Linked DNA regions of Homo sapiens: all the other regions are linked to region 1. Evidence: fine-mapped expression QTL. A gene starts in region 1. Each other region holds a variant in brackets. All regions are shown on one strand. Distances are between the middles of the regions. Region 1 holds the start of ADAM22 (ADAM metallopeptidase domain 22). Region 2 overlaps DBF4 (DBF4-CDC7 kinase regulatory subunit). Region 3 overlaps RUNDC3B (RUN domain containing 3B). Region 4 overlaps SLC25A40 (solute carrier family 25 member 40). Region 5 overlaps ZNF804B (zinc finger protein 804B).

Region 1 (5,109 bases):
GTTCATTAATTTATCCTACTCTTTTGTGTTTGAAATTTTTTATAATAAAAGGTTGCAAATGGTGTGAAAATATCCTTCCACAGAAATAATCTTAATTAATTGAAAAATACGATGACATAGGGAAACTATGGCCCCTGCTTCTTCAGTTTTACCATTGAAACGAGTCAAAATGGAAAAGGAAAATAGGCATTTACCAACCATTAATTCACATAAAAGAATCCATCATTAAAAGCTTAACATATTGGGATTTTCTACTAAAATAATCTTTGATGGATATTATGTAGCCCTTTAAGCTAATTTCCCACCTTCTATTAACAAAATGTTAACAGTACCAACTACTTGGCTACAAATACAGATTTAAGTAATATTTTCTATTTTTACATATTTCACACATACAGATAAGTTAGTATAATTATCACATCATCAAGATATATCTTAAAGCACTGATGAATATATTTATACATGTGAAAAGGTTTGGCTTGCCATTGCTTCAGTAAAGTTTACAAAAATTTTCAAGTACATGAACAAGTCCTATCTTAATATGGACTTACAGGTGGGTGAACTGCCTGATCAGCTGATGTGTAGAAATAAAAAAATACACAGCCCCAGAAGTATTTACTTAAATTTGTCAATAAATTCACAGTAATTTTCAGGCATATCTGTGAATGTGTGATCTTGATTTAAATACAGATACAGTGATAAAAACTAGATTTTTAAAAACATAATTTATAAATGCTCAACAAACAGCACAGCCCTAATTAAACCAAGAGAACTGCTACCAATAAAGAAAGTCGGAGGAGGACACCTTTTCTAGAAGGTAGGGGTGAATGGGCATATCTCTGGTGTCCACAAATGTGTGCGAATAGAACCTTAAAGTTCAGCTTGTTTTTACAGTTGGGTTTCTTAAGAACGTCTAGCCTTGTTTTTTTCCAATTTTTTCTTACAGTGTCAACCTTGGGTTAAATCACTTATGAAGTCTCTTTGAGGAGTAAAACAACAACAATGATGATTCAAACCCTGCCCAAATACTACCTCCCTTCTCGCTGTGCATGCCTGGCTTTTGCTTGACAGATGTCAGAGGGCTCTCCGCCTGTTCTCTCAGCTCACCGCACTGCTGAAGGCACCCCGCACAAACTCCCCTCGGGCAAAGCCCTCGGCCTGTGGTTATTTTGGTTCTTTTTTGTACCCTTTTCCCCTTCTTTTTTGCACAGGGAGCGCCATGCATGACTCGCATCGGGACCCAACTCATTTCACCCAAGAAGACATGGGATCTCCAGGGCAACCGAGCGCAATCGTGGGGTCTCGGGTGGGCCGGGAGGCGCGGAGGACCACCTCCCGGACCGAGCCTCTCACCTGCGGGCCACCGAGGTCGCCCCGCACCCGCGTGTCGAGCGCGTCGTGCCGACTTTCGTCTTCGCCGCCCGAGCGGTAGATGAGGCGCAGTGGCACGATGCTCTGGCGCTCCACGAAGCGGTTTTCCTTCCTCTTCTCTAGCTCCATCAATGAGGCGTCTCCTCCAGGCAGGAACCGGGAAAGGAGGGAGTGGAGAGAAAAGGCGAAAATAATGACCCTGACCCTCACTCCTCCATCCTGCAGTCCTACGTCTCCCCTACGAAAATCCCCACCGCCCCCTCCCTCTCGGAACCCAACTGGGAAGGACGCAGAGACACCAGCCCGAGAGCCTTGGACCAGCTCATCCGAGAGCAACCAGGAGCGGGGCCCAGAAGCAGGGCACCCCTTTCCCATTCTCCCCATTCCTCTTCAGAAGGAGAAAAACAGGCTTTGACCGAAGGCTTCCAGTGCATCTGCGCGCCTCCACACATATATTTTTGCTCCACTTCTCACCACCCTCCCGAATTAAAAAAAAAAAAAAAAAAAATCTCCCCGCGCACTCGGGAAATGGGGATGCCCCCTTTTCAATACGCCTGAGGGCTCCAAAGATTCCCGGGAAATGGTATGGCCCAAAGGCACAGAGGACGGCTAACTTACCTGCCTGGCCGCAGCGCGCCGGAGGGCAGGTCCCCAGGACACAGAGCAGCAAGAAGGGCACGGACACAGCCACTGCCGCCTGCATGGTGCTGCCGTCAGCCCGCCTCGCCCGAGACGCTCAGCTCCTCATGCCGGCGCCGCCGAGTCCGTTTCCCTCGCTCCGCGCCCCCGGGGTCCCCGCGGCCACCTCCACCCAGCCCCGGCCGGTGCTGCGGCGGCCGTGGCGCTGCAACCTCCACCGCGGCTCAGTGCTGCATTGTGCTTCGCGGACGCTTCCGCTGGCGGGGGGAGCGAGCGAGTGCTGCATTGGGCGGTTGGCTGTAGCTAAGTGGTTTCTAGCGCCTCCCACCTCATCCCCTGGCAAAGGCTCGGGCGGGCGACAAGAGCTCGGCAGGGAGCGAGCGCCCGGTGCACTCGCCCCCCGCGCGCAGGCAAGGGCGCGCGCAGGAGAGTCAGCTGGGAAATGTAGTTCTCTCTCCGTGTCCCGCTTGTCTCCACGACGGCACGGACCGTCGCGACCTCGTGACTGTGAGGTCCTCTATATCCCACAGACTGGAAGGGCGGGAGGGAAGGGCAAAAGAAAGAGATCAGCACTGGACCGCCTCCTGGCATCCGAGATGCACCAACTGGGCCGTTACAGCAGCCAGTATTCATCTGCATCGTCCTTAAAGAGCTGTTCTGTTTACCACAGATTAGTAGTTACTTAAGTTATCCGGAGAACCATACCCTCACGAATACAGTGCTAGTGAATTATTCAACAAATACAGATTGAGGATATACTATGTACCCAGCGGTTGACAACCGGAAGGACACGGGGATCAGAGGCACCTGTTCTTGGGTAAAGTTGAGCAGACAGACCACTTTTTTTTACAATACAGTGTGAAAAGTGTCATGGTTATACCTAGAGGACCATTAATTCAGTCCAGGGAGTCAAAGAGGACCTCCCAGGGAAGGTCTCTGCAGGTAATAGAGGGATGATTTAGCTTAACTCTACGGGATATTTTTGTTCTTTATTGCCAGACAGCCTCAAAACTCTACCAGATATGGGGAACTCAGTTTTCTCAGGCTGCTTATTCCATTTTCCTCTGATTCAAAATGATAGAAATTCTTGAGTATAAAACAATAATAAAATAGTTATCTACATAAAGTAATACTTGTATTTTTTAGTTTTTCAAAGTTCACATGTATTATCTGATCCTTTGGTCAAGAATTTGATTATAACTATTACTCTGATTTTATATTTATGTATGTACGTATGTATGTATGTATGTATTTTTGAGATAGGGTCTTGCTCTGTCGCCCCAACTGGAGTGCAAGTGGTGAGAACACGGCTCACTGCAGCTCAAGCTCCTGGGCTCAAGCCATCCTCCTGCCTCAGCCTCCCAAATAGCTGGGACCACAGACATGTGACACCACACCTGGCTATTTTTTGTTATTATTATTACTTTTTGTAGAGACAAGAGTCTCCCCATGATGATCAGGATGCTCTTGAACTCTTGGGCTCCACCTTGGCCTCACAAAGTGCTGGGATTGCAGATGTGAGCCACTGCACATGCCTACTCCCATTTTAGAAAGGAAAAAAATTAAGATTTAGAGGTGTGCCTTTCAAATACTGTAGCCAGTAGTTACTTGAGGCTATTTTTTTTTTCCGAGTGTTTATTATTTATTTTTGTATTTCAATCGCTTTTGGGGAACAGGTTGTGTTTGTTTACATGAATAAGTTCTTTAGTGGTGATTTCTGAGATTTTGGTGTACCCATCACCCGAGCAGTGTACACTGTACCCAATGTGTAGTCTGTTATCCCTCACCATCCCCCACCCTTTCCCCTGAGTCCCCAAGTCCAATGTATCATTCTTATGCCTTTGTGTCCTCATAGCTTAGCTCCCACATATGAGTGAGAACATGCAAAGTTTGGTTTTTCATTCTTGAGTTACTTTACTTAGAATAATAGTCCCCATTTCCATCCAGGCTGCTGCGAATGCCATTATTTTGTTCCTTTTTATGCCTGAATAGTATTCCATGGTATATATATGCCACATTTTCTTTATCCACTCGTTGATTGATGGGCCTTTTGACTGGTGCCATATTTTTGCTATTGTAAATTGTGCTGCTATAAACATGTATGTGCAAGTTTCTTTTTTGTATAATGACTTATTTTCCTCTGGGTAGATACCTAGTAGTGGGATTGCTGGATCAAATAGTAGATCTCCTTTTAGTTCTTTAAGGAATCTCCATATTGTTTTCCATAGTGGTTATACTAGTTTACATTCCCACAAACAGTGTAAAAGTGTTCCCTTTTCATTGCATCCATGCCAACATCTATTTTTTTTTATTATGGCCATCCTTGCAGGAGTAAGGTGGTATCGCATTGTGGTTTTGATTTGCATTTCCCTGATAATTAGTGATGTTGAGCATTTTTCCATATGTTTGTTGGCCATTTGTATATCTTCTTTTGAGAATTGTCTATTCATGTCCTTAGCCCGCTTTTTTAATGGGATTGTTTGTTGTTGTTTTTTTCTTGCTGATTGTTTGAGTTCTTTGTAGATTCTGGATATTAGTCCTTTGTCAGATGCATAGTTTACGAAAATTTTCTCCCACTCTGTGGGTTGTCTGTTTACTCTGCTGATTATTTCTTTTGCTGTGCTGAAGCTTTTTCATTTAATTAGGTCCCATCTATTTATCTTTCTTTTGTTGCATTTGCTTTTGGGTTCTTGCTCATGGAGTCTTTGCCTAAGCCAATGTCTGGAAGGGTTTTTCTGAGTTATCTTCCAGAATCTTTATGGTTTCAGGTCTTAGATTTCAGTCTTGATCCATCTTGAGTTGATTTTTGTGTAAGATGAAAAATGAAGATTCAGTTTCATTCTTCTGTATGTGGGTTGCCAATTATTCCAGCACCATTCGTTGAATAGGATGTGCTTTCCCCACTTTGTGTTTTTGTTTGCTTTACGGAAGATCAGTTGGCTGTATTTTGCTTTCTTTCTGGGTTTTCTATTCTGTTCCATTGGACTATGTGCCTGTTTTTATACCAGTACCATGCTACTTTGGTGACTATGGCCTTATAGTATAGTTGGGAGTCAGATAATGTGATGCCTCCAGATTTGTTCTTTTTGCTTCGTCTTG
Region 2 (5,109 bases), 23 kb after region 1:
GTCTTACCACAGGGCTATTTAAACTTTCTTGTCCTTTGTTATAATTTGAACAATCTAGACCATCTGGATGCCATGGAGATTATCACATTAACCCTTTATATTGATGATATATTTATCAAATCAGATGAGGAAGAAGTTGCTAGTACACTGGAAACTTTGATAAGACACATGTTCTCCATAGGGTGAGAAATTCAGGAACCTGTTATATCAGTAACATTTTCAGAGTTCCACTGGTCAGGGACATGCTGGGAAATCCTATCCAAAGTAAAAGACAAATTATTGCCTACTGAACCTTCCAAACATGAAGGAAGCATAATGTCTGCTAGGCCTCTTCAGGTTCTGAAGGCAGTCAGTTCCAACTGGGAATACTGCTTCAACCCAGTGGCAGGAAAGGCTTCCAACTGTGAGTGGAGCTTCCAAGCAGAAAAGTGCTCTGCAGCCATATGATCAGGCAGGTTCAAAGGTTCTGGATTTAGCGGTAGGAAAAGATGCTGTGAGGAATTTATGGCAACTTCCCTGCCCACAGTAAAGGAATCACAGCCCAGAAATAAGGGATTTTAGAGTAAGGCCAGTCCCTCTTTAATGGAGAGTCACACACTTTTTGAAAAGCAAAAATACTTTGTTGTATGAGATGATGATGTATGAGATGGAACACCTGACCATGAGGCGAAACCCACCATGTGGTCAACACTACCCATCATGAACTGGGGTTTTATAAGACCTACCAAGTCATAGCACCAGGCAGATGCAGCAACAATCCATTGTAAAATAGAATTGGTTTATTTAGGATTGAGCAAGAGCAGGACCAGAGAGCTCAAGGAAGTTGCATAAACAGGCGGCTGAGATCCCCATGTCATTCATTGTTGTATTAATGCCTCTCCCTCAGGTCACACCTACAGATGTATGGGTCATCCCTTAAGACCAGCTGAAAAACGAGGAAAGCCCAAATTTAGTTAATGGATGGGTTGCTTCCGTGGCTACAAGATGAAAATAGATGGCAACTGCCATATGGCTACTCAGTGGTGGCATTGAAAGCCAGTCACAAGGGAAAAATCTTGCCAATGGGCAGAATTTCAAGTGGGGTACCTGGTCATTGCTTTTGTGTGAAAAGAGAAGTAGGCTGAGCTTAGCATATATGTACAGTCTTGGGGAGTGAGAAATAATTTGCACTGGCTACTAAGGGGCCTGGAAAGAGAAAGATTGGAAGACTCAGTAGAAAGTATAGAGGCATGTGGCATATGGGAGTGGGCATGAAGTGTGGGCTCCTCATACTGCATGTTAATACTACCCTGATGCTGGCACAATGGGCATATGAGTAAAGCGGTCATGGTGGGCAGTAATGGAAGTTATTTCTGGGCTCCATAGCATAGGTTCCTATTCGCCAAAGCCGAGCTAGTGTTTTTGTCACTGCCAGATGCCCAAACTGCCAGAAACTAGGCATGAAGTGGCTAGTCGATTATACTGGACACAGTAATAGACATGCCAGGTCTTTTTGTTGTTGTTGTCGTTCACATTGCATTTTTAAGACTTAGAGTTTCACTGGCGTGGCATCATATATAACTTCGTATCAGACCAGGGGATGTCCTTTACAGCAAAGGAGGCATGGGGGTAGGCCCATGATCATGCAATCCACAAGCCTTATTATATATTGAATCAACCAGAAGCTTCCTGATAGAGTATTGGAAGGGCCTGTTAATTAGCATCAGCATGGAGGTGATATTCTTGAGAATAGGCTGTCATTTAAGATGCAGTATACAGTTGGAGTTCAAGATGTTTTTATGGTGCTATGCCCCCGACAAAATAAGTCTGGCAACCCATGAGTGGAACAGGAGTAGACCTGCTTGCCGTCACTTATTTGACCCTCTTGAATGTGTTTCCTACCTCAGCGACTCCTGTTGAATTATAAGCTGCGACCACCACCCGGCCGTTTTGAGTTCCTTGTGCCAATAACCCAACAGGCAGAATCACTATGTGGGGTAATTGATCCTGATCCCTCTTCAGTAACTTGTTGCCCCAGCTTCTGGGAGTACTGACAGTAAACAGCTTTCAACTTCTACTGTCAGCTCCTTCAGGGATTGTGTCAGCTGAGGAGCCTCGTTGCCCACAGTCATGCTCCTTCCTAGAGTGACCCATACTCAAATGACTTATTGGTCATCTTCACCTAGCAACTCTTGAAAAGCTGCCTGTGGGGTCAACTGGTGTCCAAAGGCACCCCTTAGAAAACATCTGCATACCAAATTCCATCTCAGTCTGCCTCCTGTGGGAACCCAAAAGTCATACCATGAGGGCCTCGTGGTATGACTTTTTATAGACTTTTGTCTATATATGTATAGACAAATATATATATTATACATATATA[T/ATATAT]TATATAGACATATATATATATGTATATGTATGTGTATATATATTTTTGTAAAAACGAAGTTTAGCTATGCTGCCCAGGCTGACCTTGAACTCCTGATCACAAGTGATCCTCCTATCTCAGCTTCCCAAAGTACTGGGATTACAGGTATGAGCCAGTGCCCAGCTAAGCCCAGGAGTCTGAGGCCACAGTGAGCTGACTGCACCATGGTAACCAGGCCTGGACAAGAGAGACCTAGTATCAAAACAACAACAACAAAAACAATAAAAAAAAAAAAAAAGAAAAAAAAAGAAAAACCACACACACAACAAACAAAAACAAAAAGGCAAAGAACCTTCTGGGTAAACACTACCTTGGCTGTGCCTTGGTAAAAAATAGGAAAAACTACCCCTACCTCTAGGTAGATGCACCTCATTGCCAGGACACACTACTTGCTGCAAATAACCTGCCTTCATCTCACTGGCTGGGTGCCCATCTGCATAGCTGCACAGCACAATCCAAACTGTATGTGGTGGCCCAAGTAAACTGAAATTATTCCAAGTAAACTGAAATTTAAGCACTTGAAAAAAGCTGAATACTCATTATGAAGACCATGTGGTGTTCCAAAAGTCCAATATCCAGTGTCAAATAGTTTAACAACTTTTACTGAAGGGTTCAGACTTTTTCTCCTTAGTAAGTATAACTTAATGTAAAATGATGCCCAGAGTACCACTGTAAATTGAAGACACTTTTTTTTTTTTTTTTTTTGAGACGGAGTCTCGCTCTGTCACCAGGCTGGAGTGCAATGGCACAATCTCGGCTCGCTGCAATTTCTGCCTCCGGGGTTCAAGCGATTCTCCTGCCTCAGCCTCCCAAGTAGCTGGGATTACAGGAGCGCACCACCATGCCCAGCGAATTTTTTGTAGTTTAGTAGAGACAGGGTTTCATCATGTTGGCCAGGATGGTCTCGATCTCCTGACCTCGTGATCCGCCCGCCTTGGCCTCTCAAAGTGCTGGGATTACAGGCGTGAGCCACCGCGCCCAGCCAGACACTGTTACTCTTAAAGTCAAAGGATCATACAGTGACTTTACATACCTTTCAGTTATTTGGAAAATTTGGGGAACACTGATAACTAAAGGGAAATAAACCTGCAAATAATTTTCCAAGTTCCATTTAGATTTTTCAAAGGTTGTCTACGAAACCTTACGTATGTTTACACATACATACATGTATTTGTGATAGAAAATGGAACAATAATTTACAATGGAAACAGGGTTTGCGTGTATGCACTGTAAAGACTCTTTTATTGAGCCTACTTCAGGTACTGGTATGAAAAACAAAGGTGTTAAAAAGCCAGTGTTCATTGATGTTATCCAAATGATCAAAATAATGTATGCAGGAAAAGCATATGAATTAGTCCTGTACTGAGAATCATATATTTCAAAAAAATTAAGATTAGTAACCTAATTTTTAGTGACAATAGATTCATGTACTATGCAATAGAACCAATTGAATGTCACTGGTGGTAGTCTTACTCCTACAAGAACATACTCAAAGGCAAATGCCTTATATCCACAGATTCAAATTGAAATTTCTTATATTTGAATTTTCTCTTCTCCAAATGCTTGTATCAGTAAGTGCCAGATCAAGGCAATCCTTGTATATATCCCAAAACTGTATCTATAATTCAATGCCATCCTTTTCTCCTTCATCTCCTACCAAATTAGGGGGTAGAGTCAACTTTTTTTTTTTTGAGATGGAGTCTCACTCTGTCACCCAGTCTGGAATACAGTGGCACAATCTTGGCTCACTGCAACCTGCACTTCCCAGGTTCAAGCAATTCTCAGCCTCTGGAGGGAGTAGCTGGGACTACAGGCGCATGCCGCCATGCCCAGCTAATTTTTTGTATTTTTAGTAGACAAGGTTTCACCATGTTGGCCAGGATGGTCTTGATCTTCTGACCTCGTGATCAGCCTGCCTCGGCCTCCCAAAGTGCTGGGATCCTGTGGCATGAGCCACAGGAGAGTCAACTTTTGAATATTATTAAAGTTATTTACAAGGTAAGTAATTAAAAATAGCAGATAAATTATATTCCACTTGGTAGCCTGGTTAAGTCCTTCCTTCATGGCTTCCAGTTACCCCTATACATAATCTAATTACTCAGCACCAAAATACTAGCATGGTCCACCAGTGACCCTCAAGTGTCAATATTTCTGATGATTTCCAGAATTCAAGCATAGAAATGTATTTTTCCTTTCTGTATGAAATTTAGGTTTTTCAAGGCAAGGTCATGTTATCCTGATAATCTTTTAAAATTTACAATACAACTAGAATATCCAAATGTATAATGCTAAGTTTGATATTCCCCAAATTGCACTTCACTGGTGGTTTTCAGTGACAAAGCAAATTATTATTCATTGTAATTCTCAGGAAACAATTACGAACATATATATAATGTAAAACAAGACCAGTCACAAGTTTATTCTGTAATTTTTCTTTAACAGGTATTCAATTCTGTAGAAAATTGCAAATATTTATTTTTAATATTTACATTTGGGTCTGTAAACAAAGCTGGTAAAAAAATCCTAAGAATTTCCATACATATTTATAAAAATTTCAAGAATATGATCCTTATCACTTCTGAAAAGTATGCATTTTTTAAATTCTAAAAGCCAGTAAATGTAGAAGTTGAAGGGGACGAGAAAAACGCTGTTAACAGATTATCTGAATTTTCCTCTTCCCAAATATCTAAAACATTGCATATACCACTCT
Region 3 (5,109 bases), 150 kb after region 1:
TCTCTCTGTGTTCAGCCACCTGGAACTGGGGGTGTGGTGATGTAAGCCCTCCTATGGCCACCATCACTGGGACTGCACTAGGTCATACCTGAAGCTAGGACAGCACTGGGTCTCACCCAAGCACTGCTGCAACCACTACCAGACTACCACCTATGTTCACTCAAGGCCCTAGGGTTCCAGGATCAGCAGATAGTGAAGCCAGCCAGGCTTGTGTCCTTCCCTTCAGGGCAGTGAGTTGCCCAGGCCCTGGGTGGGTCCAGAGATGCTGTCTAGGGGCCAAGGGTGGCAGTCAAAAACTTTAATAATTTACTTTATGTTCTGTTATACTGAGGGTAAGCTGGCACTCAAACCACAATACAAAGTCGTTCTTGCTCTTTCTTCAGGCAGAGGAAATACTATCAATATCAAATTACTACTCTTTCCTGTTGTAATATCTAATTTCCGATTAATACCCAAGGAAGTGCAATAGAACATGGTTTATCCTTCTGGGGCTTGGCATTTTTCTCTTCTGGATACATTTTCTTGATTTTTCATCCATATATGGGCAGTAGATTATATAATACATATTAACATGATTTTAATTTTAAATTTTAATTAGAATTATTACCTGCCAAAATGTATACATGACCAGATGAGTAGAAACTGTCATAATCTGTCCGTTATAATGTCATCATTGCACTCTTGTTAGGATTCATACCACTCATCTTAAACTTGTGCATCAGAATGGCATAGTATCACTGACTTATGGTTTGTAGGCTGATAGATCATGCCATCAGTACTCACTACGAACTACACTAAATTGGCTTTTCAACTGTAACAATGGCCTAGTTTTAACAATGAATTATTCTTTACTTATATTTCACTATGAGTGACACTTCAGTTTCTTTACTAGGAAACCATATAGGACAGGTTACTGTTGCCATAATCTTTCAAACCATAAAGAGAAAAAACATTCATCAGCTAACTAGGAAAACAAAATAGAAAACAATTATTGGTGTTAAATATGACAAATGTGTTCAAGCTTTGCAAGCTGTTCCGTGGCTATTTATTCCTGAGGTTGGAATGCATGTTTTACAAAGAATCATTTGTACAATAGATCATCTATCTGACAGTCTGTACCTCTAGATGTTGACAAAACCCCTCTCTTATATATGGCACCCTTCAAGTAACAATGTGATTGATGTTAAATCTAACTACTTCAGGAGATTTTGAATCCCATGTAAAAAGAGAACATGCCTTATTATTGTCGATATTCTCAACTACTTGGGCAATCTCAGGTACAAAGTATACATTTAAATATATGTTTACTGAAAAATACTAAATTCAAAACTGAAGTTTTTCCACCAATTAGCATAAATAATTATGACAATAAGTTTTGAAAAGGCACATGTATACATATGTAACTAACCTGCACAATGTGCACATGTACCCTACTAAAACCTAAAGTATAATAAAAAAAGAAAAGAAAAAAAAAAAAAAAAAGTTTTGAAAAGGCCATAAACAAATACATTTTTTAATCTTTTAACAAACTTTCCATATACTGATCCAAAGTACAATTGGTACTTTAAGCTTGTTTATATTTCTTTTATTGAATAAAATTTAATATATAAATAAGAGTTAAAACAGTTACTGGAGCCAACTAAAGTCAAGCTGTACACAGATTTCCATAAAACCATAAGAACCAAAACCTAGAATAATCCTGTGTCTCCCAATGAAATTATACTATTATTACTAATCATAATAGTAGAAGATTGAAATGATTCAATACTTAAATATTCTAACCACCAAAATCTTTTTCTCTTTGTTTTGGACACAGTGTCTCACTCTGTTTCCCAGACTGGAATGCACTTATGCCATCATAGTTCCTCCCAAAAAACTAGGACTACAGGCACACAGCACCACACCCAACTAATTTTTCGTATTTTGTAGAGATGGGGGTCTTGCTGTGTTTTCCAGGCTGGTCTTGAACTGCAGGCCTCAAGTGATTCTCTCGCCTTGGCCTCTCAAAGCTCTGGGATTACTGGCATGAGCCACTGTGCTTGGCCCACCATAATCTTAATCATTCAAATATACCTTTGTCAATGCCTTTTAAAATACTTTAAATTAGTATTGCATCAAACATATGACTGACAAAAAGAATTACAGTTACAAGTGATACCTGTTAAGCAAACACATATGTCTTACAGGCATGGTACATACAAATACTATTATTTAAAAGATTAATCCCATTGCCGTTTGGAAATCAGAACTCAAAAGTGAGTTTCTTGGAACTTGGGGATAATATGATAGAGTCAAAACTCATTGTTTGATCCGTAGCATTTTGACAAAAGATTTTAATTTTCTACTTATCTCCCTGAGTGAATTTATAAAGGAGATTTTAAGGTTCCCATATATAAAAGCAGAGGAATAAACCTTTGAATGCCTTCTTTTTTATATACTTAACACCATTAATACTCATAATGGTTCACAAAGTGAGTATGTTATCTCTGTTATATAGATGAAGAAACATTAAGACCTCACAACTGGAAAGTGTAGAGCACAGTCCTGATTTTCAAGACAGCTTTAGAATGCTCCTGTAATACTCCACACTAACTTGTACTCTGTTGCCCAAACTACAAAATGTATATATTTTATGAGTATTCAACGACATAATCAAAAAGC[G/A]TTTTAATAGTAATTCAAAATACATCTAATCATCAAGAAATACATAAAACTAAGTGACTCAGGATTTAAATTGCCCAGGAAAAAAAATCAACACAATGTAGAAGCAAATATTACATGCCTCATATTCTACCTATCAGTATTCCTTCTCTGGCCTTTTCCTTTACAATTTTAATTTTCTGAGGGCTACTTTTATCTTCTCAGGAGTAACAAAGGAAATTTCAATGCCCAACTTTGATTATAGGCCTTCTTGACAGTTGATTTTTTAAAAATCTCAGCAAGATAAGGATAAAACATATTCACTCTTTCACTATAGCTGCAAAAATATCCACACTGTTCTGCATTTCTTAAAGCTGATTCTGATAAAGTAGTGAATTGTGAACATTCACAAAGAAATGTATCTTATGCTCCTGTTCAGTATCCTTGAAAGTGGTTTTTGTATGAAAGAATCTTAGAAGACACCAATTTATGCCTTATGCCTATCTAAAAATTGAAGCCATACTATATGAAAGTAAATCTTTAACCTCTCAACTCAAGAAAATAGTCTAATTCTGATCAGTGGCCATAATTATTTTGTTGCTCCAGTAATATTTAATTAAAATTAAAGGTATTAAATTAAGGTTATTAAAGACAACTGAAAGCTTCCTTTGCAAAAATCAAGAGGATCAATGGCACTCCTACATCCAGAAATACGACAGAATCATAACTCAGGTAGATTAATTTCTCAAACTTGAAAGTTTGAAAGTCTTTGTTTCCTTTCAATTATCCAAAGTAAGATAAATGTGATCCATTTAAATTTAATTCTTAAAATGAAAACATCTCTTTTGAAAAAATAAAGTGATTTCATAATTATTTTATGTTAAAAGCATTTAAACTACCAGTATTGTTTGTAAAAGAAAAATGAAATTATCTTCTTAATATTTTAATTGTAAAATTATAATTTTATATAACCAGAAATCTGGTTTTTAATAACCAGAAATCTCTACTGTTTGGCTCTTGATATTTTTCTCCCTGCTAATGGAAGCAAGGGGTTAAGAAAGGTGTTAATCTCTTCCCTACCCAGTGATGCCTCATAGGACAAACTCTCTTTAAAATACCATTAAAAAAAAAGAAGAAAAAATATGTAAACATAATTCTTTTCATCAAAATACAAATTCCTAAAAAATATTAAAATTTTTTGTTCCTTAATAAAACTTTCTAACTTTAAAAATCATCTTTTATGATGATTTTTAGTCTATGATACTTAGTCTCAAAGTATCTCATTACAAAATAACACTGGAAGGAGGAAGTGGAGCTGGGCTGCTACTGGGACAGTGTCTGCAGAGTCCAATTCTAGGAACGTTTTTAGGAGGCAGGGGACAAGATGGCCAATTAGATATAGCCAGGAAACACATCTCCCTTCAAGAGAAACCAAAATATCAAGTAAACCATCACATTTCAAACAGATTGTTTGAGAGAAAACACTGAAAGTTGAGAGAGAGGTGATGCAGACACCAAGGTTGAAAAGGAAGTTGGAAAGCCTGCATAGAATCTCTTAGCACAAGGACCAGCTCTCGGTCCTGAACAGAGCCAAAGCAAGGGGGGAGTGAAGGAACTACAGAACACCACACCTCGGGGATCCTAACTATAAAAGATCCCACAACCCACACAGACATTTGAGTTGGCAAAGGAATTGCCCACAGAGTATGCAGAGGCAGAGCTCAAACCTGTGCAGAGCTCAGAAGGGTTCATGGAACATGAGACAGCTACAGCAAAAGGCAACCATAGGTTCCCATCCCCTAAGTCTCTCCATCTTGCTCTGAGTGACTGGAGCCCCTACTGACTGCAGAGCCAGGAGAAAGTAGTGCTCCCTTTCTCATGGGATTGGGCAAGGCTGATCCACATGCCCCCTTGTCTTCCAGCTCCTCTCAAAGCCACCTGCCTCGCCATTCCTGTAAGAGGGTGCACAGAGCACAGCCTGCACTGCCCCGCCTGAGTGTTTTGCCAGTGACCTGGGAGCAGTTTAGCTTCCCCAGCACAGCTGGTGTTCAACCCTATGGGGCCAGAGGACAAAGCTGCAGGCCCAGTCCCAACCTCCCAGGGTTGGAGTACACTGTCCAGGGTTCCAGAACTGGGATCTGTGGTTACAGCTCTAGTGAGGAGGGAGCCCCCACTCAGAACACAAACAGGGAGGCGTGAGTTCATGTGCTGCCAAGGGAGCTGGGCATCCTTCCTTCCACAAGACCAGCCTGGGAAGGGTTCAGTCTGTTGACCAGTCGTACCTTCTGCTTGAGGGAGCCCCATGGCCTGGAACACTTGGGACAGCCCCGCAATTTCAGCACAGAAAGCTTGGAACAAATCTAGCTGGTTAGGTCTGTTCCTGGGGCAGACACTGGAGGGAGATCTGTTTGGGGGATCCCACAGCCATTTGCCAGGCTAAAAACCCTGGGCTGCAGGCACCACACGAGCTAT
Region 4 (5,109 bases), 76 kb after region 1:
ACAACCGTCATAGATGATGCTGGCCCTTTAATTTTGTGTTACAAAATCTGGTTGTTCTACTGTAAATGATGCTAAGATTAATCACTGTGTTTGGGCTCTAGAGTCGTTTGCTTATTTGTTTTTAAAGCAGAGTATATTAACTAGAATAACATGAGGTTTTTGTGAAAATGCTTCTATAACTAATGCTTGCATTTATGGAGTGCTCTTTATATTCTTCAAAGCAATTAGTAGAAAGCATTTAATGAGTATTTGTTGATTTTTGTATTAAAGTTTTTATGTACTCTTTTCTTTTAGATTTATTATCCTTTTCCTGTGTGAAAAGATAAGACAATTACTTTCTTCTTAATTACAGGTTTTTGGCTACTGATGTTACAAACAATAAAATATTGGAGCATAGAGTTGAAGAACAGACTCAAACCAGGTAGGTAGATAATAAAAGTCTAAAGAATCAATAAAATTACTATTTATTTTGATAAAGGACATTATTGATATTATTGACAGAATTGGAATATGAACTGTAGAGTACGGTTCAAAATTAAGTTTCCTGAATTTGATAATTGTATTGTGATTATATAAGATAATATTCTGATGTATTTATGGTGAAGGGACATGATGTATGCAGCCTACTTTTGAATGGTTCAGAAAAAAAATTATATGTAATTTGACAGAGAATTTGATAAGTCATGGATAAGTAGGAACTCTCATATTGCCAGTAGAAGTATAGATTGATCCAAGCTTTCTGGAAAGCATCATGGCAATTTGTATGACGTTTTTTTTGTTGTTGTTGTTTTGATTTTGACATGTAGTCTTCTCTGTCACCTAGGCTGGAGTGCAGTAATGCGATCTTGGCTCATTGCAACTTCTGCCTCCTGGGTTAAAGGGATTCTCATGCCTCAGTCCCCCACGGAACTGGGACTACAGGTTTGCGCCACCATGCCCTGCTAATTTTTTGTATTTTTAGTAGAGACTGGATTTCACCATGTTGGCCAGGCTGGTCTCAAACTCCTGACCTCAGGTAATCCACCTGCCTTGGCCTCCCAAAGTGCTAGGATTACAGGTGTGAGCCACCACACCTGGCCCTGTATCAAGTTTTAAAATAGCTTATCCCATCAATCTTACTATCTTTCCTACAGTAATTGTAGGAAGGTTACAAAAATATATATATGTATGTATAAGAATGTTATAGCAGAATATTTTATAGTTTGGAAATTGGCAACAACCTGATATCTAACAATCTGAAACTGATTAAATAAATATAATTAACTACCGTGCAAGCAATAAAAATGTAAATCTGTTTTTATTGACACAATGTCTATAATGTGTTTTTAAGTGTTAAAGCAGCCTACTAAACAAGCAAAATAGTATTGACCTGTTTTTCAGAAAAGCTGTATGTACACGGACACATAAGTGTACGTGTGTTTGATTAATATACAATATTTGGTTAGATGTAATGTGTGTGTATAGACATATACATATGTATGTGTGTATGTTCATAGACATTTGGAAAGATGACATTCCTGTTGCTGGTGATTATTATTATTATTTTTTTTTGAGACAGAGTCTTGCTCTGTTGCCCAGGCTGGAGTGCAGTGGTGCGATCTCGGCTCACTGCAAGCTCCGCCTCCTGGGTTCACGCCATTCTCCTGCCTCAGCCTCCCGAGTAGCTGGGACTACAGACACCTGGCTAATTTTTTGTATTTTTAGTTGAGACAGGATTTCACCATGTTAGCCAGGTTGGTCTCGATCTCCCGACCTCATGATGCGCCCGCCTCGGCCTCCAAAAGTGCTGGGGTTACAGGTGTGAGCCACCACGCCTGGCCGGTGATTATTTTTGAATAGTAAGTTCATAAGTTATTTTTATACTGTTCTGTATTATCTGACTTTTTAAAACTTTTTATGTTTTTATGTTGCTTTTCTCATCAAATTTTTGTAAGATAAAACTTATTAAGGTTATGTGTTTTTATTTTACATCTGTACAACAACTACTGGTATACAATAAAGGGCTGTATTTGCTGATACCTCTGTACTCTATTGGGGAGGTTTTTTTAGTAGTGTGTATGAGGCTGAGTTCACAGACTCAGACTTAGTGGTCACCTGCTTTCATTCTGTCAGTATCTGTTTGGTTAATTCTCTCTTAGTTGTCTTACTAATGTGATGCTGCTCACCCAGCTTAGCTGAAGGATGTTATCATTTTTGAAAGATCAGAGGATGTGCTCTAATTTTATGTTTTCTTTTTAACAGGTTTTTATTTAATTAGTTAAAAATATGGATCCTGAGACAAGGGGACAAGAGATTATCAAAGTGACACCTCTTCAACAAATGCTTGCCTCATGTACTGGAGCTATACTGACATCAGTAATAGGTAAAATTATGTTACTGATGTAGATTATGTAACTTTGAATGAGTCAGTGCTTCCATTTGAGTTTTAGTATCAGTATTTCAACGTAGTTTCTTTCTATTTTCCATAAGTATTGGCTGGCTGAGAAATAAAGAGTACAAAGAGAGGAATTTTACAGCTGGGCCTCCGGGGGTGACATCACATATTGGTAGGACCGTGATTGCCCACCTGAGCTGCAAAACTAGCAAGTTTTATTAAGGATTTCAAAAGGGGAGGGGGTGTAAGAACAG[G/T]GAGTAAGGTCACAAGATCACATGCTTCAAAGGGTAAAAAGGAGAACAAAAATCACATGCTTCTGAGGAAACAGGACAAGGGCAAAATCACAGACTCCTGATAAGGGTCCAGCAAAGATCACAAGGCAAAGGGCAAAAGCAGAATTACTGATAAGGGTCTATGTTCAGCAGTGCACGTTTTGTCTTGATAAACATCTTAAACAACAGAAAAGAGGGTTTGAGAGCAGAGATCCAGTCTGACCTCAAATTTACCAGGGTGGAGTTGCCCAATCCTAGTAAGCCTGAGGGTACTGCAGGAGACCAGGGCGTATTTCAGTCTTTATCTCAACGGCATAAGACAGACACTCCCAGAGTGGCCATGTATAGACCTCCCACCAGGAATGCATTCCTTCCCCAGGGTATGAATTATTAATATTCCTTGCTAGGAAAATAATTTAGCAATATCTTCCCTACTTGCATGTCCGTTTATAGGCTATCTGCAAGAAGAAAAATATGGCTCTATTTTGCCCGACCCTGCGGGCAGTCAGACCTTATGGTTGTCTTCCCTTGTTCCCTAAAATCGCTGTTATTCTGTTCTTTTTCAAGGTGCACTTATTTCATATTGTTCAAACATACATGTTTTACAATCAATTTGTACAGTTATCACAATTATCATAGTGGCCCTGATGTGATGTACATCCTTAGCTTATAAAAATAACAGGATTAAGAGATTAAAGTAAGACAGGGGTAAGAAATTATGAAAGTATTATTTGGGAACTGGTAAATGTCCATGAAATCTTCAGAATTTATGTTCCTTTGCTGCGGCTCCACCTGGTCCCTCCATTCAGGATCCCTGACTTCCTGCAACACATACTATCATTTATGATCCATGAATGTTTCATCATATTATTATATGAAAACAACCCTGGACAGAGATTCAAGAGACTTGAGTCCTTGCTTTGCCATTCTCACGGTGAATACACTTGGGAACAGTATCTAACTTTTATTTGAACTTCATTATTTCATCTGTAAATTAGGGGCTTATAACTGGGATTTCTTTTGGGTCCCTATCAACATTAAACTTTTCTGATTCCCCATGTCTATAATAGAAAGCAAGAAGATGGAATAAAATATTAGCATAATGAATAATACAGAATTTTCACAATTTATGTTCGTAACAATTACAAATAATCTTTACTTTGCATTAACGGAATTTCTTAAATTTCTCTGGTTCACAGTTTTCTGTTTCTTACAGTCAGCTTCTTGTAGATGTAGCCAAATGACACAGTTAGGTGATAGTTTAGCATTTTAATGATTTTTAAGTTGGCTAGTTTATGTAAATAACAAATGATTAGAACAAATAAATTAATTGCTTATGATGTATTTTCAGGTCAGAATTTGAGTTATAAAGGTCATAGAGATCATCTAATATAATTATCATCATTCTCAAGATGAGGAAAAGTTTTCTTAGAAACATTATTTGGCATTTGTTTCTACTTGGATAAAATATAGCATGCATATTAAAACTATTTTCCTTTGCTGTGCTATGCCCAAATGGAATAACATAACTTAGTGCTAAAGATGTTTTATGACTAGTTTACTCAAATTTTTATTATCTGTACCTCTTATTTGATACAGGTAAATTTAACAGATTGGGAAGACTAATATCATTTGGCTATTGATTACTTATAGAAAGTTATTCTCAAAGTCTTTTGGAACTTTTACTTCTTATATTAGAAATCATATTTTCTTATAAATACTGACTTTAATGCTAATGTAATGATAGTTGTAGGAATATTACAAATAACAGTTTAGTACTCATGAGAGAAGTAATTCGTCTGTCTTTCACTGATTAACAAAATTTAAGGGCAAAAAAATTAGAATGTTACATTCAAGACTACTTTAAGATAAATAAGCTTACCAATTATATAGCCATGAGGAAAAGTATGAATCAATGTATTTTGTGTTCTGTGTAAAACATCTATCCAATTTACAGATACCACTCGCTAATTGAAACTTAACATATCTTCATAGTGACACCCCTGGATGTTGTTAAAATTAGACTCCAAGCCCAAAACAACCCACTCCCCAAAGGTATGTGTACTAATTGCCCTAAAAATGTTATGTTTGATTTTTAAATGTTCCTGTGGTTTTTTTTTTTGCCTAACATTCATTTGCTAATTTATTAAAATTGATGCCTCTTTATCCTCATGAAAAACTTTTTTTTTCACCATTTAGTTGTACGTGATGAGGTGTAGGCAAAAAGCAAATAAATACATAATATTTATATGGACCTACTAATTAAAGCAAAGGATGGTTATGTATTTGTATTTGTGCCTCAGAGGTAAGAACAGAATTATATTTGTGAGGGACCTTAGAATCCAGCTTACTCCTGTGTCCAAAAGTTGTGCCCATGTTAGAGCATTCATGACCATCATACAACTATTGCTTGAATATAGTGATTGGAAATTTATTATTTTATCAGACAGCTTGGTTAATTTC
Region 5 (5,109 bases), 920 kb before region 1:
AGAAAAAGGTTTTGAATATACTATTGCCCTCTACAATATTTTATATTGTAATACTCTGAGCAAGAGCATTTTCTTTTTCTATCAGCTCAAATCTGGTATGTTTTGATTTTCCAAATATAACAAAGCAGAGTTCTTAATTATATCTGAAGTCAGTGTAACCAGATTTTAAAAGAAAACAGACGCAAGAGAACATTATATTTTTGAAAGTTTAGGTATAAAACATCAAATATTAACCTTACTTTTTCTATAATTTAAAAATATTTATAAAATATTGATTTTTCTCAATAGAGAAATTTACACAGCTCCATAACTTTATTCTTTTTGAAGTACATAAGGAAATTTATATTTTTTAAATGAAGGTAATAAATTTCAGGAATTATCCTTTTGACTAAAAGCACATTTTTAAGTTGTTTCTGAATACTCAGATATCTATTATATAATATTAGCTTAAACAATAGATATTAGTTTATATCTAAATAACACTATATTTCCATATGCATGCACATGGACATAGAGTCAAATGTTTCCTTGAGGAAACATTTAGCTGCACATAATTGCTATGGAAAGCATTTCTGTCCTAATGGGCCTGATTATTTATAAATTATCTTATTAATTGTTAGATTTAAGTTGTCAGATCAAAACTAGAAAACATTATGTCTGTAAATTATGGTGCTAAGTTGTTATTCAAACTAATGAAAGAGAGAATTAAAGAGAATAGTATATTCTTATTCCCCAAATAAAATTTTGCTGAATCATGATTCACATAACTCACATAAATCATGACCCACATAAAAGTAGATTGAATTATTATTTTTAAATGTCTTATAAAATTACCATTTAGAGAAAAGCTTGTGCCCTTTTATTAAACTGGCTTATATCAGTTTTTGTAAAACAGATGAAAAAATGGCCTAATCCAATTTTTCTGCTAAACTCATTAGTTGTATCTGATGAGTTGTCATTAAGTCATAAGTTTTTAGATAAATATAGACAAAACACTACACCTAAATATTACCCATACAGAAACAGCACACACACACAAACACACACATGCACGCACACCCATAGCTCCTAAAGTAAGCAAAAATTCCTCATTCTTATTCATTTGATTGGTGAAGAGCGTTGCCTGAAAATAAACCCAATAAAACCTATATGCTCATTAGACAGAGGTCCAATGATAAGTAAAATATATACTTAAATATCAATATTAATATTTAATGCGTTCATAATGGTGTTCATTTATATATCCATTCCTAAACATTCAGGGAATGTTCATAAGCCTCCTCATTAATAATCTTCCATCTCAAGCTGTTTTATTTCCTAAAATTACTGTTGAAAATATGCCTACCTTATAGCTATAGAACCAGAAAAACAAAAAGTCAGAAAATATTGGCATCAAGTTCACAGTTGTTGCCGCTGTGTTTTCTCAAATACATAATGCTAACAGTTATTTTCAAAATCATTATTCTGGAAAATAACTATGTTTATCCACGCTAAAATGTCTCCAAAAGTCTTTCAAATGATATTATTATTATCTCAATATTACTATAAATATAATTCATTATGGCCTTTCTGTTAACGAGATTTTTTAATCATGTCTGTACTTGGCCTCAAAGTACCCCAGTATGTTCATTCTGCTCTACCACTTCAGGGATCCTACAGCAGCACATCATCTGGCAGTGTTTAGTAACTGCTTTTCTATTTTCACCAACTATAAAATATTCATCAAATTCTATTGCATGCCCCATTCTCTCTGTCCCTCTCTGATAATCACCAACTGTATAAAAAGTAATGGCTTTAATTTTAAACAAAGAATCATCACCCCATCTCTAACTACCCTTTGACTTCAAGTAATATTCATGCTTATTTTCATATTTTTGTTGCTAAAGTTACTTTCTATCCTTCCAATAAGTGATAAAATTTATCAAATTTAACTAATTGCTACAAGAGGCTTTATGTTGGTGAAAGTACCTTGAAGAAAGGAAACTAGGAAAGTAATACCCAGCAAGAAAAACTCAGAGGTTAGCCTAATTTGAGGAGAAGTATTTAGACTTTTTTGCTATTTATGAATTAGTGACATTAGAGGTCAAGAGAGATAGATAATTATAGGTAAAGAAATGCAGGCCAGGTGCCGTGGCTCTCACCTGTAATCCCAGCACTTTGGGAGGCTGAGGTGGGCAGATCACCTGAGGTCAGGAGTTGGAGACCAGCATAGCCAACATGGCAAAACCCTGTCTCTACTAAAACTACAAAAATTAGCTGGGCATGATGGCACAAGCCTGTAATCCCAACTATTCAGGAGGCTGACGCATGAAATCGCTTGATCCTGGGAGGTGGAGGTTGCAGTGAGCCGAGATTGTGTGCCAC[T/C]GCCCTCCAGTCTGGGCAGCAGTGACAAAAAAAAAAAAAAAAAAAAAAAAAAAAAGAAAAGAAAGGAAAGGAGAAAGAAAGGGAAGAAAGAATTTGGTATCAGGATTATGCTGGCCTCATAAAATGAAGGAGGATTCCCTCTTTTTCTATTGATTGGAATACTTTCAGCAGTTATGGTACCAGCTCCTCCTTGTACCTCTGGTAGAATGAGGCTGTGAATCCATCTGGTCCTGGACTTTTTTTGGTTGGTAAGCTATTAATTATTGCCTCAATTTCAGAGCCTGTTATTGGTCTATTCACAGATTCAATGTCTTCCTGGTTTACTCTTGGGAGGGTGTAGGTGTCCAGGAATTTATCCATTTCTTCTAGATTTTCTAGTTTTTTTGTGTAGAGTTGTTGATAGTATTCTCTGATGGTAGTTTGTATTTCTGTGGGATCGGTGGTGATATCCCCTTTATCATTTTTTATTGCATCTATTTGATTCTTCTCTCTTTTCTTCTTTATTAGTCTTCCTAGTGGTCTATCAATTTCGTTGAGCTTTTCAAAAAACCAGCTCCTGGATTCATTGATTTTTTGGAGGGTTTTTTTGTGTCTCTATTTCTGTCAGTTCTGCTCTGATCTTAGTTATTTCTTGCCTTCTGCTAGCTTTTGAATGTGTTTGCTCTTGCTTCTCTAGTTCTTTTAATTGTGATGTTAGGGTGTCAATTTTAGATCTTTCCTGCTTTCTCTTGTGGGCATTTAGTGCCATAAATTTCCCTCCACGCACTGCTTTGAATGTGTCCCAGAGATTCTGGTATGTTGTGTCTTTGTTCTCGTTGGTTTCAAAATCCCTGATGAACATGGATGCAAAAATCCTCAATAAAATACTGGCGAACCGAATCCAGCAGCACATCAAAAAGCTTATCCACCATGATCAAGTGGGCTTCATCCCTGGGATGCAAGGCTGGTTCAACATACACAAATCAATAAACGTAATCCAGCATATAAACAGAACCAACGACAAAAAACATACGATTATCTCAATAGATGCAGAAAAGGCCTTTGACAAAATTCAACAGCCCTTCATACTAAAAACTCTCAATAAACTAGGTATTGATGGGACGTATCTCAAAATAATAAGAGCTATCTATGACAAACCCACAGCCAATATCATACTGAATGGGCAAAAACTGGAAGCATTCCCTTTGAAAACTGGCACAAGACAGGGATGCTCTCTCTCACCACTCCTATTCAACATAGTGTTGGAAGTTCTAGCCAGGGCAATTAGGCAGGAGAAGAAAACAAAGGGTATTCAATTAGGAAAAGAGGAAGTCAAATTGTCCCTGTTTGCAGACGACATGATTGTGTATCTAGAAAACCCCATTGTCTCAGCCCAAAATCTCCTTAAGCTGATAGGCAACTTCAGCAAAGTCTCAGGATACAAAATCAATGTGCAAAAATCACAAGCATTCTTATACACCAACAACAGACAAACAGAGAGCCAAATCATGAGTGAACTCCCATTCACAGTTGCTTCAAAGAGAATAAAATACCTATGAATACAACTTACAAGGGATGTGAAGGACCTCTTCAAGGAGAACTACAAACCACTGCTCAAGGAAATAAAAGAGGATACAAACAAATGGAAGAACATTCCATGCTCGTGGGTAGGAAGAATCAATATCGTGAAAATGGCCATGCTGCCCAAGGTAATTTACAGATTCATTGCCATCCCCCATCAAGCTACCAATGACTTTCTTCACAGAATTGGAAAAAACTACTTTAAAGTTCATATGGAATGAAAAAAGAGCCCGCATCGCCAAGTCAATCCTAAGCCAAAAGAACAAAGCTGGAGGCATCATGCTACCTGATTTCAAACTATACTACAAGGCTACAGTAACCAAAACAGCATGGTACTGGTACCAAAACAGAGATATAGATCAATGGAACAGAATAGAGCCCTCAGAAATAATGCCACATATCTACAACTATCTGATCTTTGACAAACCTGACAAAAACAAGCAATGGGGAAAGGATTCCCTATTTAATAAATGGTGCTGGGAAAACTGGCTAGCCATATGCAGAAAGCTGAAACTGGATCCCTTCCTTGCACCTTATACAAAAATTAATTCAAGATGGATTAAAGACTTAAATGTTAGACCTAAAACCATACAAACCCTAGAAGAAAACCTAGGCAATACCATTCAGGACATAGGCATGGGCAAGGACTTCATGTCCAAAACACCAAAAGCAATGGCAACAAAAGCCAAAATTGACAAATGCGATCTAATTAAACTAAAGAACTTCTGCACAGCAAAAGAAACTACCATCAGAGTGAACAGGCAACCTACAGAATGGGAGAAAATTTTTGCAATCTACTCATCTGACAAAGGGCTAATATCCAGAATCTACGATGAACTCAAACAAATTTACAAGAAAAAAACAAACAACCCCATCAACAAGTGGGCAAAGGATATGAACAGACACTTCTCAAAAGAAGACATTTATGCAGCCAACAGACACATGAAAAAATGCTCATCATCACTGGCCATCAGAGAAATGCAAATCAAAACCACAATGAGATACCATCTCACACCAGTTAGAATGGCGATCATTAAAAAGTCAGGAAACAACAGGTGCTGGAGAGGATGTGGAGAAATAGGAACACTTTTACAATGTTGGTGAGACTGTAAACTAGTTCAACCATTGTGGAAGTCAGTGTGGTGATTTCTCAGGGATCTAGAACTAGAAATACCATTTGACCCA

Evidence for each region. PIP is the estimated chance that this variant, and not a neighbour inherited with it, causes the effect. A credible set is the group of variants that fine-mapping cannot tell apart.
Region 2: its variant is the best candidate, but not a certain one, in a credible set for the expression of ADAM22 in whole blood (INTERVAL, PIP 0.66).
Region 3: its variant is the best candidate, but not a certain one, in a credible set for the expression of ADAM22 in whole blood (INTERVAL, PIP 0.78).
Region 4: its variant is the best candidate, but not a certain one, in a credible set for the expression of ADAM22 in whole blood (INTERVAL, PIP 0.52).
Region 5: its variant is the best candidate, but not a certain one, in a credible set for the expression of ADAM22 in tibial nerve (GTEx, PIP 0.77).

The regions. Positions count from the first base shown.
Region 1 is chr7:87,931,431-87,936,539 of GRCh38, reverse strand. ADAM22 (ADAM metallopeptidase domain 22) reads right to left here and starts at 2,289. Exons shown (of 32, transcript NM_001324418.2): 1 at 1,990-2,289; 2 at 1,354-1,514. The coding sequence starts at 2,074. RefSeq lists enhancers at 1,027-1,106, 1,117-1,166, 715-1,292, 1,293-1,870 and a silencer at 1,977-2,386.
Region 2 is chr7:87,908,057-87,913,165 of GRCh38, reverse strand. It overlaps DBF4 (DBF4-CDC7 kinase regulatory subunit), which reads right to left. Exons shown (of 12, transcript NM_006716.4): 12 at 3,613-5,109. The coding sequence ends at 5,003. Among named protein-coding and RNA genes, the nearest start is that of ADAM22, 24 kb to the left of the region's middle. The variant T/ATATAT (reference allele first, on the strand shown) is at 2,360.
Region 3 is chr7:87,785,077-87,790,185 of GRCh38, reverse strand. The region is part of intron 8 of RUNDC3B (RUN domain containing 3B); the gene reads right to left. Among named protein-coding and RNA genes, the nearest start is that of SLC25A40, 89 kb to the left of the region's middle. The variant G/A (reference allele first, on the strand shown) is at 2,662.
Region 4 is chr7:87,855,884-87,860,992 of GRCh38, reverse strand. SLC25A40 (solute carrier family 25 member 40) reads left to right here. Exons shown (of 12, transcript NM_018843.4): 2 at 353-421; 3 at 2,242-2,362; 4 at 4,642-4,701. The coding sequence starts at 2,266. Among named protein-coding and RNA genes, the nearest start is that of SLC25A40, 18 kb to the left of the region's middle. The variant G/T (reference allele first, on the strand shown) is at 2,629.
Region 5 is chr7:88,855,133-88,860,241 of GRCh38, reverse strand. All of the region lies in intron 1 of ZNF804B (zinc finger protein 804B), which reads right to left. Among named protein-coding and RNA genes, the nearest start is that of TEX47, 62 kb to the right of the region's middle. The variant T/C (reference allele first, on the strand shown) is at 2,365.